2 separate regions of the Homo sapiens genome follow, and region 1 is linked to region 2. The links come from fine-mapping of genetic effects on gene expression. A gene starts in region 2. The other region holds a variant in brackets. All regions are shown on one strand. Distances are between the middles of the regions.

Evidence for each region.
Region 1: its variant is fine-mapped to the expression of LINC02610 in whole blood (INTERVAL, PIP 0.98).

What each region holds. Positions count from the first base shown.
Region 1 is chr2:238,302,778-238,311,103 of GRCh38, reverse strand. No RefSeq gene overlaps it. Among named protein-coding and RNA genes, the nearest start is that of TRAF3IP1, 14 kb to the left of the region's middle. The variant GAAGAAT/T (reference allele first, on the strand shown) is at 3,548.
Region 2 is chr2:238,227,387-238,235,712 of GRCh38, reverse strand. LINC02610 (long intergenic non-protein coding RNA 2610) reads left to right here and starts at 4,036. Exons shown (of 3, transcript NR_026926.1): 1 at 4,036-4,379; 2 at 7,915-8,029. It also overlaps the pseudogene TARDBPP3. RefSeq lists silencers at 900-989, 1,140-1,269 and an enhancer at 970-1,471.

The DNA.
Region 1 (8,326 bases), 75 kb before region 2:
TCCTACCTCAGCCTCTGAAGTAGCTGGGATTACAGGCGTGTGCCACCATGCTCAGCTAATTTTTTGTCTGTTTGTTTTTGAGATGAAGTCTCGCTCTGTTGCACAGGCTGGAGTGCAGTAGTGCGATCTCGGCTCACTGCAACCTCCACTTCCTGGGTTCAAGCGATTCTCCTGCCTCAGCGTCCCCGAGTAGCTGGGACTACAGGCATGTGCCACCACGCTCGGCTAATTTTTTTGTGTTTTTCGTAGAGATGGGGTTTCGCCACATTGGTCAAGCTGGTCTCAAACTCCTGACCTCAAATGATCCACCTGCCTCAGCCTCCCAAAATGCTGGGATTACAAGCGTGAGCCACTGCGCCCGGCCATCAGCTAATTTTTATTTTTTTTTGTAGAGATAGGATGTTGCTATATTGTCTAAGCTGCTCTTGAACTCCTGGGGTCAAGCTATCCTCCCACCTCAGCCTCCTAAAATACCAAAATTACAGGTGTGAGCCACTACCTCTGGCCTCTTGGCACTTTTGTTGAAGGTAAATTGACTGAGCCCTCCAACCTGAAATATCCCACCTGCCACTCCCTGAAAGCCTGCAGTTGACTCCCACTGACCCCAGGAGTCCTCCTCCAAGCTCCGGCGGTGCTGTCCAGCTCCCCCTGGCCCATGCTTAAACAAGGGCATGACTTTCCCCAGCTAGTGCACAAGGTCCAGGAAGGCTGGGACAGGGTCCATATGTCTCCTCAGGGCACCCCATGAATACTGGCTGCATGAACGTGTGGGTGCCTGAAGGAGGAAGGAGGAAGTCTTTAAAAAGGAGTGGCGCAGCCGGGCGCCAGAAACAAAACCTGGCCAGGCGCAGTGGCTTACGCCTGTAATCCCAGCACTCTTGGGGGACGAGGCGGGCAGATCACGCGGTCAGGAGATCGAGACCATCCTGGCTAACACGGTGAAACCGCATCTCTACTAAAAATACAAAAAATTAGACGGGTGTGGTGGCGGGCGCTTGTAGTCCCAGCTACGCAGGAGGCTGAGGCAGGAGAAGGGCATGAACCCGGGAGGCGGAGCTTGCAGTGAGCTGAGATCATGCCACTGCACTCCAGCCTGGGTGACAGAGCGAGACTCCGTCTCAAAAAAAAAAAGGCGTGGCCCTCTCAGCTATGGCTGCCTTGGCCCTGTGGTGGGTGCTGTGCCACTCAGGGCTGAGGCCCACACTGCCCCAGCTGCCAGAAGCAGTGATCCCTGTGGGCTCACAGCCAGGTTCCCTTCTGGGGAGACTTAGCCAAAGGGGCCTACTGTGCCTCCTGCTCCCTATGGGCACCCGCATTCAAGGGCTGATGGAGTTGGGGGTGCAAACCCAGTTTCCCAGAGATCTCTACCCAAGAGAGTTGCTCTCAGAAGTGGTCAGAGGAAATGGACCCTAAATTGAGATTTCGGAGCTGAATCACCACTGACCGGCTCAACTGAAGCCCCCAGGGTGGGCGTGAGAGACCACTGTCTCAAAAACAAACAAACAAACAAACAAACAAACTAGAATCCCCAGATTCTCCTGAATCATCTGGACCTACAGAGGAGGCCCACTGCTCCTGTTAAAGGCTAGCACCCCCTTTCTTGAAGTGTTTTATATAGAGAGAATGTGTGTGTTATAGTTGGGGGGCGGGGGGAGAGAGAGAGAGAGATGTCTGCCTTGCAAGACAATGCATGCGTTTTTCAGGATCTATGCCAATATCCCCCTCCTGACACCAGACCAATCATGAGGGTCAAACAACAACATAACCTAGCTAGGACATGCTGGCCTGCTAAGGGAGGGAGGGACTCTATTCCGAAGGAACTGCAGGATCTGCCTAGCATGGACCAGCAAGATCCAGGAGAGCACATCCAGGACTGCATCCCAAGAGTGCTGGACCCAGCAGGGGACAGAATATAAAGACGGATAAGACAAGAGTTGATGAATGTGGGAGGACTTTCCGTGATAGAAGCTTGTGACCCTGGCTGGGTCCCAGGGAGACAGTGCTAATGGGCTGTTAGAATGGCTCTTGGACACCTGCAAAGAGCTATGGCCTTCACTAAGTGAAGGAAAACTTCCAGCCCCACCATGGAGGATGGTAGGGAAATGAGCCTACTAGAGCACATACGTGATGTTGGGCCAGCAAACCTACCAGCCCACTGTGTCCTGTGAGAGGGCTCGGAGGTCACTTCATTTACCAAAGTGACAATATTTGGCATGTAATATTGGTTTTTATAGCCAAGAGTGGCAAGGTCAGAGTGGTAGCCAGGAAGACCTGACATGCAGAGAGCTATGCGGCCGGATAATACAACAAAATGTTCCTAGGGACCAGGGGAATGAGCAGTCAGCAAGGGTGTGGCCGAGCTTTCGAAACTAAAATAAATCAAACATGGATGAGCAGGAGGCTGAGAGTGGCTGCCCCAGTCCCCCGCTACAATCCCTTGCCTGGTTTTGGACCTAGAACTCATTGAAAGGCCAGGTTCCCAACATCACTGCCGGTGCAGGGAGCCAAAATCTCCCCCACAGTCCTTCCCCAAAGAAACCTAAGGCCACTCATTCAAGTAACTATACACAGGGAGGGGGAATACAGAACCATTTCAAGGACTATTGCACACAGAATCCTGGGGACATGGAGCATCATCTTGACTCCTGTTAAAGGGAGGGCATACGGGGTCAGGTGATAGAGCCCTAGCCCCACTTTGGATTTTGGTAGGTCCACAGGGTCCATGGAGCCACCTGGTGGTCATTTCCCGAGCCCTCAAATGCAATGATTGAAGTGGACACACTTGGCATATGGGGTAACCCCATGTTGGCCAGATACTTGGGATTGTGGAATAAGAGCTATAGACCTGGGAAGCTGAGTGGGAATCCCTGACACTGCCCCTCCCCCAGCCAAGACAGTAAATAAAAACCAATATTGCATGCTGAAGAGAGTTACAGCAATTATAAGGGACGAATAGATTCCACTGTTAAAACCTGAAGGATGCAGGTATACTTTCTCCCCATTATAGAGTCATTTAATTAGCCAAACCCCTGCAAAAACCACATGGATCCTGGGGATTGACAGTGGAATACTGCAAACCCAAACAAATAGGAGCCCCAATTGTGGTATCTTTGCTATAGCAGGTCAACACAATCTCAAGTCCATGGTAGGAAGCCAATACATTCATTTCCATCCCTACTTAAGAGGAGAACCAGAAGCCGCTTACATTCATTTAGGATGGATAAGAGTACACATTGGCTGGGCACGGTGGCTCACACCAATAATCCCAGCACTTTGGATCTGAGGTGGGCAGATCATCAGATCACCTGAGGTCATGAGTTTGAGACCAGCCTGGCCAACATGGTGAAACCCCATCTCTACTAAAAATACACAAAATTAGCCGGGTGCGGTGGGCGCTTGTAATCCCAGCTATTCAGGAGGCCGAGGCAGGAGAATCGCTTGAACCTGGGAGGTGGAGGTTGCAGTGAGCCGAGATTGCACCACTGCACTCCAGCCTGGGCAACAGATTGAGACTCCGTCTTAAGAAAACAAAAAAGAAGAAGAAGAA[GAAGAAT/T]ACACACTGATTGTCTCACCCCAGGGCCATATTAACTCTTTTCCCTCTTTCCTAATATAGTCTGGATGGACCAGACACTCTGCACAATGCTGCACTGGTTCAGTATACTGATATCCTATTAATTAAACTGGATGACCAGATTGACGAGGAGAAACCTCAGAGGCCTTATTAAGGTGCGTGTGCTGCAGAGGGTGGGAGAGAAACCCTGTGAAGTTCCAGGCGTCTGCTGCATCGGTGAAGTTTTTAGGGGCCCAGTGGTTGGAGCTTAACAGGCATCTCCACAGTGAAGGAAGGACTACATTGTGTACTTCCCACCACTAAGAAGGACCACGAGGACTGGTCGCCTCTGTGGGTTCTGGAGGCAGCACGTGCCACACTTGGGAATACTGCGTGGTCACATTTACCAGGTGGTGTGAAAGGCTGCCAGCATGGGGAAGAACGCTGCAGTGGGCACAGGCTATGGTGCTAGCAATCCAGCAAATTAGGCCAAATGATCTGGAAGATGCTATGGTTCTAGAGATACCTATGGTGGAAAAGATGCCTTGTTGCTTTAAATCTCTGAGTGTGTGATAACTTCATGGCAAACCCCCAGTGGGAGAATCACAACCTGGACCCTGGGGGTTCTGGAGTAAGGCCACGCTATCTGCAGCAAAGGAAGACAGATGCTGGTATGCCTCTGCACCCTAGCAGAGCGGAAGACACCAAGCGGTGATCACACCACTAGAGCTGCCTGCCTTGAGCCGGGCTCTGCCAGGGCCTCCAGGGCATAGGTCAGGCATGCTCGACAGAAATCTATGATAAGATGAAAGGGCACATCCAGCACTGGGCTTATGCAGGGCCAGAGCCACAGATAAACTGCACAAGACCCTCCTATCATCTGCCTCTGTTGCACCACTGGAGGTCCCTCACCTTCATCACTGCTGTGTTGGGTGGCGGTGTCACTTATGACCACCTAGTGGAGGAAGAAATAGGCCGAGCTTGGTTCATGCATGGGTTGGCTCAGTGTGGGATGCAAAAAATGCCTAAAAATAGATAGCTGCTGCACTGCAGCCTCACTCCGGGGCCTCCCTGAAAGGCAGTGCTGACAGACTGCCTCTCCCAATCTCCCCATGGACAGAAACTTGGTGTATTAGTTCATTGTTGCTGCTGTAACCAATTTCCAAAAACTTGGGAGTTTAAAACAACACAAATGGAATCTCTTACAATTCTGGAGGTCAGAGCTGAAACTGGGTGTTACTGGGCTGAAGTCAAGGTGTGGTCAGGGCTGTAATCCTTCTGGAGGCTCTAGGGGAGAATCCATTTCTTCTCCTTTTTCAGCTTCTAGAAGCTACCTGCATTCTCTGGCTCATGCACCCTTTCCAGAAACGACATCATTTTAACGTCTGTTTCTATGGCCACGCCTTCTTCTCGGACTTTGGCCCTCCTGGCTCCCTCTTCCACTTTTTTTTTTTTTTTTTTTTTTGAGATGGAATTTCGCTCTGTTGCCCAGGCTGGAGTGCGATTGTGCGATCTTGGCTCACTGCAACCTCCACCTCCTGGGTTCAAGTGATTCTCTTGCCTCAGCCTCCCGAGCAGCTGGGATTACAGGTGCCCGCCACCAGGCCCAGCTAATTTTTTTTGTATTTTTAGTAGAGAGAGGGTTTCACCATGTTGGTCAGGCTGGTCTCGAACTCCTGACCTCAGGTGATCCACCCGCCTCAGCCTCTGAAAGTGCTAGGGTTACAGGCGTGAGCCACCACACCCGGCCTCCCTCTTTCACTTATAAGGACATTTATGATTACATTGGGCCACCCAGATAATCCAGGATAATGTTCCCATCTCAAGATCCTCAATGTAATGACATCTGCAAAGTCCCTTTTACCCTGTACCAAAACAGATGTACAGGTTCCAGACATGGGCGTGTGTGGGGGCCCACCGTTCTGCCCACCATGCTTAGGCAGTACACGTAGCTCTCCATTTTGTGTAGAAAGAGAAGTGGCTTGGCATAAGAATATGTTCAGACCCATGGACAGCGGCAAAAGACGGCTGTTGCTGCTCTGGGCCTGGAAAATTCAAAGGTTGGGGACCAGGAGTTTAGTGGAAGGGTCATGCATGCAGCTAGGACCATGGGAGTGGACAGGCATGTGAAGGTCTCTGTATCCCTGCTAACAGCCACCAGAGAGCACCACCATGGAAAAGGCACCCAGCAGCCATGTAGGAAGATGCTTTGGCCGTTCGGAGTCAGCCTGCCTCTGTCATAGGCCATTCAGTGAGTAGCAGTGGTGGCAGGGTTGCAGGATGGTGTGGGCCTGACAGTATGGCCTCCAACTCGCCAAGGCTGAGTTAGTTCCAGCAACTGCTAAACATCCAGCTTAACAGCAAGACACCAAAGCTGAGCTCCCAGCAGAGTGCCACCGGGAGGAACTCAACTGGCCACTAGGTGGAAGGTTGATTACATTGGACTTAAACTCAATTATATTGCCCTAAAGGTGAGGCAGTGATTCATTTTGACTGACCCAAAGTGTGGATTTGGATATCCCAAGTGTGGATTTGTCTTTCCTGCCCTTACGAACACTATCTGGAGGTTTATAAAATGTTTGATCGATGGATATAGAATACCACATAACATTGCTTTGGACCAAAAAGACTCACTTTACAGCAAAGGATCTATGGTGTTGGGTACATGACCGTGGGCTCCACTGGGCCCATTCCTTACCATGCCGTTCAGATGCTGCCAATCTGGGTGAGTGATGGAGTGGTCCTCTTGTTAGCTCTGCTGAGGAGAAAATACCCTTTGAGGATGGGATTCCATCCTTTAAGACACAAAATATACCCTAAATCAGTGACCATCATAAATTGCTGTCTCCAGCTGATGAAAGGCATGGGTCTGGGAACCCAGGAGCAGAAGCAGGAACAGCCCCCAACCATGACCTCCAGGGATCCAGTTGGTGAATTTGAACTTCTCGTCCCCTCCATGTTGTGCTTTGCAGGTCTAGAGGCCTGTTCTCTAGAGGGGGAACACTGCCACCAGGGGATCCAGTGGACAATAAGCGATGGCTGTCACTGGTCACTCAGGCTCTGTGCCAAAAGACGAGCAAGCAAGGAAAGGAGTCGGTGTCCCAGCAGGGGTGACTGGCTCTGATCCTCAAGAGCAGGAAGGGCTGCTGGAACCGGGGTGGAGGAGAATCACCCTGGCACACAGCTGGCTTCTGGGGCATCACTTGGCACGCTCCTGCCCAGTTTTGGTGGGAAATGGACAAGCACAGCAGTTGCAGCCTGAAGAGCGTGTAGTGGCTGGGATGAGGGTTTGTGTCCTCCTGCCAGGTGGGTGCCCAAGCGCAGCAGAGGTGCTAGCAGAGGAAGTGGGGAATCCAGACTGAGCAGTAGATGACAAAAATCAGCTATGGTCATCCCACTAGCCTTCCTCCTACCTAACCCAGCAAAGAGACAAACCAGAGTCAGTCCTGGGAGGGGACGCTTCAGATGGGGTCCTGGAAATTTTCCAGGAAGAAAGGACGGGGGAGTTCACTGGAGAGCCATGGCCGAGCTTCCTTCCCACCTGCTAAGACTTCACCACTTCTCTAAAACACAAACCCGGCTCAACTGGTCGCCTATACAAACCTAACAAAGGCTTCGTCGGCTGCAAAAATATTGTTGCTGAAAATGGGTCAGTCTTTTGATGCCAGTGAAAGACGCTGGTCCCTGCTGATAGCACACACACACACACACACACACACACACACACACACCCCCCACACTGGGCCATGCAGCTGTTGGTACAGAGCTGCCAGGGCTAGAAACGGCTTTTCTGGGTGTCATAGGCCTTGGCCTCCCCTCCAATGCCCTGGAGGGGCAATTCCCAGTAGGAGAAGCTCCGCCCACAGGTCTGCAGGGAGCCCTCCTCAGATGAGGCAGCAAACGCCACTGCACTCTGTTGGCCGACATAAGATGTCCTAAAGGAAAGTCATCTCTGGAGTTAGATAAATATGGCCTGAAACCTTTATGTCCTGAATATTGGGGAGAGGGAGGAGAAATGGGGAGAAAAGAGTAAAAACAACCATGAGAAGCCTTGGACAGGATCAGGTGAAGTGCATCCTTGGGAGAAGGGGGAAATGATTCTTACTTTGAGTGAGTTCCGAACTGCCTTGGGGAGAAGCCCTAAACCTGTAGCCCAAGATGACAAGAACTTAATTCCTAGAAATAAAAAAGCCTCCACTATCCCTGTCATGGGATGCCATCAAAAGTTGCCTGGGAGGGACAGTTGTGTGATGAGTTTTGAGTTTTCGAGAACTCAGGAGTCCTGAGCGGGCGCATGGAGACGACAAAGAAGAATGGGAGCTGGAAAACCGGAGTGGGAGGCACCATGAGACCCAAGTCGCTGGTCTCAGGTGCTAGCAGGAAGTGAATGCTGGGGACGCAGGAAGTGAACGCTGGGGACAGGGGACGTCGTTTCTCATCCCATGAGGGCCAGGACTCTAATGAGTCCAGCACAGATGGACGTCCTGGTGGCAGGACTCAGTGTCTGCACCGGGTGACACACAGGGCCCAGCCTCATCTTCATCAATAGGAAAACATGAGCTCTGGTAGGGCAGCCCCACATTCAAACCTGGGCGCCTCTGGGCATCAGAGGAGGAAGGGCCCAAACCACCTGAACAAGTGCTTGCCCCAAAGGGCACAGTGACCTGGCTGGGGGCGACATCCAGAGTCCTGAGCAGGAGCAGGGACCCCTCCACCCCTCCACACACTGCCCCAACGGTTCTGGGAAGACCCTCACCGCCACATCTCAGAGATACA
Region 2 (8,326 bases):
CGAGCATGTTTCCCAACCCAGTGGGCATGTCCGCATGTCAGCTTCACTTCTCGTGGGTTATGACTCATCCATCTGGAGGCTCCTTCTCCAGTCTCAAGGGCACCACACCAGCCTTCTTTCTACCTCATCGGCCATCCTCAGTCCCCTGTACTCAATGCTCCTCCCTGCCGACCTCCAACTGGACGTGTTCTTCCCAAGGCTCTGTCCTCAGCCTTCCCTGCCGCCCTCCAACTGGACGTGTTCTTCCCAAGGCTCTGTCCTCAGCCTTCCCTGCCGCCCCCACACCCAGTGACACCATCTGGCCCGTTTTGCCAATCCCATGCCCTTGATTCAAAGCCCCTCTCCAGGCGGCTGGCTCCTCTGTATCCTCCTGTCCACTCAGTGACTGCACTTAGATGTCAGATGGGCTCACACCACCACCAAAACAACAGATCCTCAGGCATTACCACTTCTTGGTACCCCATGGATTGAGCAAAAAAATCTAGATGTCACCCTCAAGTTCACCCTCTTCCTGCCATCCCACGTCCTATCAGTCAAGCCCATGAGCACTACTTCTTCTTCTTTTTTATTTTTATTTATTAATTTATTATTATTATTATTATTTTGAGACGGAGTCTCACTCTGTCGCCCAGGCTGGAGTGCAGTGGGGGAGATCTAGGCTCACTGCAACCTCCGCCTCCTGGGTTCAAGCAATTCTCCTGCCTCAGCCTCCCAAGTAGCTGGGACTACAGGCGCCAGCCACCACGCTCGGCTAATTTTTTCTATTTTTAGTAGAGACGGGGTTTCACCGTGTTAGCCAGGATGGTCTCGATCGCCTGACCTCGTGATCTGCCCGCCTAGGCCTCCCAAAGTGCTGGGATTACAGGCGTGAGCCACCAAGCCCGGCGGAGCTCTACTTCTAAGCCCTGCCTCCACGTGTCGTCTTCTTTGCCACCGACCGAGTCCAAGGCAGCCTCGTTTCTAACCTGGGCCTCCGCAGCAGGCCTCTGACTCCCCTCCCACTCCAGTCCTGACCGTGACCTTCAAGACTCTACCCGGTTCAGCACCGCCGCCCCCCGGGGCTCCTCCCTTCCAGCCCTCCCTACGCTCTGCTCAGGCCTCTGCAAGTGACCCGAGAGCCAGGACCCGGACGGTCTCGATCAGCCAGTCGCCCAGCCCTTGAGCCCTTCCGGGACTGCCCGGAGCCGGCGCTGGGGAATACCGAGTCCCTTGGAGCCGGGTTCGGGGGGCGCCGTGAGCTGGGAGGCGCTCGGAGGAGCCGAGGCCTTGACCACGCCCCCTCCAGCCCCGCCCCGCCAGAGGCGAGCCGCGGGGCCTCCTGGGAGATGTAGTTCCGACCCCTTTACTTAGATTTTTGGTTTTTTTTTTTTAAATCAGTTTTATTTAAGAATTTCCAACAATGACAACTCTTATAAAAAGCATCCAAGCACAGGACACAGAACTGCAGCAAACAGCATTCTTATGGGTAGCTAACAGACATTAGAACTTCTACCCTTCTTTGAGACACCAGAGTTCACTGCTGAACTCTGCTTCCAAGTCCTCCTGCAAAGCACACCACAAGCTCAGTCCATGTTCTCAGCCCATCAGCTTCAGTTCACATTGCCACACTTACATATCAGTAACAGAAGAGAACACACACCATACAGCATTCACAGCAGTTGACAAAGGGGTAGGGGGAGTACAAGTATCATTTCACTTAACACATTCAAATAAAGTGGGTTATCTAAGAACAAAAACTCAAAGTCTTCCAACAGATGTGGATGTCCTTTGAATGCAAAAAACATTCGTACATTATTTGCTATCATTGCTGTCTGCACACTGTCACCAAAGCCGCAGGATTGAGAAACACATCTCGCCAAGTTAAAAAATATCCGTTATGCACCACCAAGTCTCTGCACGTGCTCTCTCCTTTTCTCACTCATACTAGCCTTTCATGCCTCAGCACCACCGTCAATCCCACACAAGGTTTCAAAAGTTCAAACAGCCTTCTAGTTCCATATCACAGCCTTGCGTTCACAGCGTTGATACGACTCTATGAAATAAAGAGTAGCAGATAAAAATGGGACACCCACCGTCAAAGACGCGGCCTGTGATGCGTGATGACGAATTCTTGAATGAGAAGGCATGTAGACAGAAGTGTTCCTATGGCAGAATATTTACAGCACTACTTTCAACCAAGTGCTTCTTCCATAAACATTTGAAATGAGATGAACTGCAGAGATTAAATGAAGGCTTCATATTGTACTTTTGTGTTTGAGGGGAGACAAGTGTTAAAAAACAAAACAAAAGAACCAAACTGTGACACCATGATCTTCTAAAAGGAGATTTTCTTAAGGAAAAAAATCCATATGGTGGGGTTCAAATTAAAACAAGGAATAAAGAATGTAGTTCTAATTCATGGCTTCCATTTTGAACATGCAAAGAACTCACTTGACAAGTCCAGGGATAAAATATTACAGGAGAAACCTTCTGATATCAATTGTAGTGTGTTGGTTTACCAATCAGGCAAACAGCAGTTCACTTTCAACCACTCAATATTTCAACCTTTCATGTAACAAAACTTATAAAATTCCTTTAGCTGTTCCTTTTTCTAAAGAAAAATGTCAAAAATACTACTGAATATACTCCACACTGAAGAAACCAATTTTGAAAATTCTTAGTACATATGTATTTTACAATATACTTACCATGAGTTTAGAAAAATTTGAATTCCAACCATTCTATACCAACCAACCACAACCCCACTGTCTACGTTCCCAGCCAGAAGACTTAGAATCCATGCTTGAGCCAAAGCCGCCATTAAAACCACTGCCCGACCCTGCATTGGATGCTGATCCCCAACCAATTGTTGCACCAAAATTAGAACCACTACAAGAGTTATTTCCAGAACCGAAGGCCTGGTTTGGCTCCCTCTGCATGTTGCCTTGGCTTTGGTTATCATCCGATGGGCCTGGCTGCTTCGCTGGCTGGCTAACACACCCATCGTACACCAACTGCTCTGCAGCACTGCCTGGGGGGCAGCCATCATGGCTGGATTAATGCTGAACGCACCAAAGTTTATCCCACCACCCATATTACTACCTTGATTGTTTCCCAAACCAGCTCCACCCCCTCTACTCTTACCAAATCCACCCTGATTCCCAAAGCCACCTGGATTACCACCAAATCTTCCACTTCTTGCTGTCTATTGCTATTGCGCTTGGGTTCGGCATTGGATATGTGAACGCTGATTCCTTTCATCGAGTCCTCTCCACAAAGAGACCGCGCAATCTGATCATCTGCAAATGGAACAAAGGCAAAGGCCCTGAACGGCTTGGGGACGAAGACATCCATCACATCCCCATACTGAGAGAAGAACTCCCACAGCTCATCCTCAGTCATGTCCTCCGTACGGCGCCCCACAAACACTTTTCTGCTTCTCAAAGGCTCATCTTGGCTTTGCCGCACCATAAGAACGTCTCCAAAGGTACTACAGTACTCTTTCAGGTCCTGTTCAGTTGTTTTCCATGGGAGACCCAACACTATTAAATCGGACTGGTCTTTTCACTTTCACTGCTGATGAAGCTTCTGTCTCACCCATTTTTCTTTTGTTATCTTTCGGATAGTTGACAACATACACCGGATTTCTCCAGCCAGCATCGGGGGCATGCAGAATTCCTTCTACCAGCCGGACACCTCTCATACATTGAGACACCGGATTCCTGCAGCGAAGCCCACACGCCCCTGGAAACTGGGCTGTAACCGTGGACAGCAGCACCGTCCCATCGTCTTCCGATGGTATTTCAATGGGCTCATCGTTCTCATCTTCGGTTACCCGAATATATTCAGACATCTTTTACTTTTCCACTAGGCCGCTGCTGGGAAGCCCGACAGGGACACCGAGGCAGCGACGGACCCAAGCGCCAGTGTTTTTTTGTTTGTTTGTTTTTTGTTTTTTTAAAGAGGCCACCACAAGTTGAGGCGGGACTACAACTCCCAGAGGCCGCCGCGGCCCGGAGGCCACGCCCCTTGGCGGCGAGCTCTGAGCCCTTTGCCGCATTTGACACTCGACATCCTCGTGCTTCTTAAAGCACTTGCCCAACGGTGAGCAACGGCCTCCAACGGTGCCCGAGGGACTCGCGCTGCCCGTTAAGCAGCTTTGCGGTGGCGGAGGCTGGGCTGCCGTCTCTCCGACATCCCGGGACGGAGGAAGAGATGAAGGCTCTGCAGCCCCCGCCGCCCGATTTACGCTTGAGAAAGCGAAGGCGAGAGAGGTCGTCCAGCCCCTGGGGGCCCAGCCCTAGAGAGCGGGGCGCGGGCTGCGGGGCCCGGCGGCCTGGACGGCGGAGCGTTGAAAGCTCCCCCAGGGATAGGAAGTGCAGCCGAAATCAACGATTGAGGTCAGTGAAGGAGCGGACGCTTGAGGCCTTGGAGGGGAAGCAGGTTTCTCCAGGAGGGAACCCGGGCCTCCGCTTTGCTCAGCGCTCCCCTCGCGAATGTGTTGAGCACCTGTTATGTGCTGGGGGTACAGAGGTGAGACTCACAAGGCCCCTGCATTGTCTTTAAGATCAGCAAGACCCCGCAGAGAACCCAAATCCAACGCGCACTGCCCAGAGGCAGACACTGGCATTCCTTGATAGACGGTAGCCAGGGAAGCCCAGGTCTTACTAGATTATTATCAGTACTTGGATTTGAATGTATCTGAGAGGAGGAGGGTTAAGGTTTAAGCTGTGGCTCAGAAGCCCCTCAGCTCTTCGTGGAATCTCCCAGGCTTTTCACTCTTGCATCCTCATGGAAAAATACTGCCCTCCCTGGGAAACCATGCTTTCTGTGCACACCTGCTCTGTTCCCATGTCGCTGTACTACCTATTGACCTGTCAATGGATGATGACACTTGGGGTACTATCCTCTCTCCTCCAGATCTTGCCCCACCTTAACCTTGAAAGAATATTAAATGCGCCCTTAGACGTCAGGAACCATCCCTCAAACCTTGCCATTCCTCTCTGTTGAACCTGCTCCAAATCTTAAGTGCCAACCTCCATCTTATCCACTTTATCCTGGGGAACTTGTCCTCACACCCCGTTGAGGTTTCTTACTTATTGTCCTACTGTTTTCTTCACACTCCAGTTTCTTAAAAACAGTCTTCATTCTCATTTTCTTCATTTCCTCATCACCTGTTTGTCCCTAACAAAATTTCAGTATGGCTACATTTCCTGCCATTCTACTATAGAAAACTTCTGCCAGAGTCTCCAATGAACTCCTGATTGCCGAGTAGACTCTTCAGTTTTCTCACCCGAACTTTGCGGCATTTGATACTCAACATCCTCATGCTTCTTAAAACATTGTTCTTGCCAGAGCACGGTGGCTCACACCTGTAATCCCGGCACTTTGGGAGGCTGAGTTAGGCAGATCGCTTGAGCCCAGGAGTTCAAGACCAGCCTGGGCAACATAGCAAGACTCCATCTCTACCAAAAATGCAAAAAATTAGCCAGACATGGTGGCCCGCACCTGTAGTCCCAGCCACTCGAGAGGCTGAGGTGGGAGTATCACTGGAGCCCGGGAAGTCAAGGCTGCGGTGAATTGAGATCACGCCAGTGTGCTCTGGCCTGGACAATGGGAGTGAGACCTTATCTCAAAAAATTGTTCTCTGTCTAGTCTTCTTGCTCTTCTTGTTCCACCATTCCTTCTCAGGTTCTGGCAGTGGCTCTTCACAACTGGATATTAAATGTTGTCTTTTTTTTTTTTTTTTTTGAGACAGGTTCTCACTCTGTCTCAGGCTGGAGGCTGGAGTGCAGTGGTACGATCATGGCTCACTGCAACCTCGACCTCCCAGACTCAAGTGATCCTCCCACCTCAGCCTCCTAAGTAGCTGGGACTATAGGCGCACATCACCATGCCTGGCTGATTTTTGTATTTTTTTTGTAGAGAGAGATGTTTGTAGTGTTGCCCAGGCTGGTCCAGCAATCCACCTGCCTCACTCCCAAAGTGCTGGGGTTATAAGCATGAGCCACCGTGCCCGGCGAATATTGTCTTCTTAAATATTGTGCCCCACATTTCTTTGCTAGGCCCTCTTCTCTAGCTTCTAGGCTGTAATCTGTATGATCTCCATGGCTTCACCTGCTGTGCTACCAGCTGCAAAATCTATTTCCAGCCCAGCCCTCTCTGGAGCTCTCATAGAGTTTATCCAAATGCCCCTGGCTGTCGCCTCTCAGGAATCCCACAGGTTCTGCAACAAGTTCAAATGTGAACTCAGCTTTCCAACAAAACCTGCTCCTCCCTTCATGTTCTGGATCCTTCAGAGCAACAAGGGCATCAATCCTTCAGGCTGGAAACCAGACGGTCCATGGAGACACCTCCCTGGAGCCCTGCCTGGGCAACCTTGACCTCCCAGGTTCCAGGGGACACTGGAGCCCTGCAGGTAGCGTCCAGGAACTGGCAATCCTGCCACTTCAACAGGTTGAACGAACAAGAGGATGAGTCTTAGACGTCCCTTTCCCCCTGTCCGGCTCCTGCATTCGTAGTTCAGGTTCTTGGCTGTCACCTGGAGAATGGCAGTGGTCATTAAGAAAACCCCCACCTTGAAGGTTACGCCCTGAGCTTCAGTCTTTTCAAAAGCCCAACACTGCAGATTCTCAAAGAATAGTAGGCCTGGTCCTCACGTGGGCCAACTCAGAACTTACTGACTGCCTCCACACCCCCTCCACCACCTTCTGTCTCCATGCCCTTGCCAGATATTTGGTTTGCTGCATGGCCAAAGCCGCTGCTCTGCCCTCTGCATGCCTCCAGGTTTGGCTCAGATAGACTGCCTGCCTGAAGCCTTTCCTGGTCACTCCTCGTTTTATGCAGTTTCCAAGGCTTCTTTTATTTCCCTGACGGCATAGTCCAGATAATGTTTGCTTGTTCATTCCACAGTTGTTAACTGGAGGCCTGCTCTTTGTCAGGCATTCTTCTAGTTGCTGGAGACAGACAGCATTTCTTCTCAAGTTTATGCTGTTATGGGCAGTTAGGCTGTTGGGTTGTTGTTGTCTTTTTTTTTTTTTTTTTTTTTTTTTTTGAGACAGAGTTTGTGCTTTGTTGTCCAGGCTGGAGTGCAGTGGCACGATCTCCGCTCACTGCAACTTCCTCCTCCTGGGTTCAAGTAATTCTTCTGCCTCAGCCTCCCAAGTAGCTGGGATTATAGGCGCCCGCCGCCACACCCAGCTAATTTTTGTATTTTTAGTAGAGACGAAGTTTCACCATGTTGGCCAGGCTGGCCTCGAACTCCTGACCTCAGGTGATCCACCTGCCTCAGCCTCCCAAAGTGCTAGGATTACAGGCGTGAGCCACCACGCCCAGCCTGTTGTCTCTTGATCCTTGAATACGCAGTCTCTGTCTTGTCTGTATTCCTGCCTCATATTTTCTCTCTCCTGCCTCTTTATCTCTTAAACCGTTGTCTCTTCATCCACATCATGGGAATGGCAGTAGTACCTACTTGTTTTGAGGGTTGAATGAAATAGCATGGAAAGCCGTTTTCTCAGTGCCTACTGTTGGTTGGAATTCCCTTTCTCTTTGTTTCCACCTCGTTCTCTTTGCGTCTTCATCCTCCCCTGCCTTCATATCCTTCTGTTCCCCATCTCACCAGCTCTCTCTTCCTCTCTCTGGCTCCCTTCCTCTCTCCTCTCTTCCCTGTCTCTCTGCCTCTCTCTGTTTCTTTCATTCTCTCGTCCCTGTTTCTGTCTCTTCCTCCAACCCACTTTTGCTGGGCTTTCCCTGCCTCTGCCCCGCCTTGCCTTCTTTGTCTTTCTCTAGCCTCCCTCTGCCTCTACCTCCCTCTCAGACGAGAGCAGGTGACTCCCCTGATGCTTCCTGCCCCTTCCCTGGTAGTGGGTGTGGAGGGGGTGACTGCCCAGCTTCTGCAGCGCCAGCGACTTCCTCCACCTTGTTCCCGCCCTGCAGGGTCTGAGCACCTCCCTCATGCAGACAGAGCCCCGGCTCCCATGTTCACCATGCTGAGAAAGACCTGCGGGGGACAGCAGGAGGACAGCCGGGGAATGGGCCCGCACTTGCCCAGGTGAGTGCTGTGGGGAGTCAGGCCAGCCCTGTGGAGAAGGCCGCTGGAAAGGGGGAACTGATGCTGCCATTCCTTATAAAAAGGGCCACCCAGTCCATGTAGCTGAGGACCAGCACCAGGCAGGATCTTTAATGGGACTCTGGGCTTTGTTAAAGGGCCACAGGCTTGTTTAGGGAGGTGGGGACAGAGTCAGGAGGGAGAAGTACCACTTCTCCTGGGAGCGGCACATGGCATGGAACAAAATAGCCCTGGGGCACGCCCTGAGCCCAGCCCTAGTTTTCTAGCTAAGGATCAGGT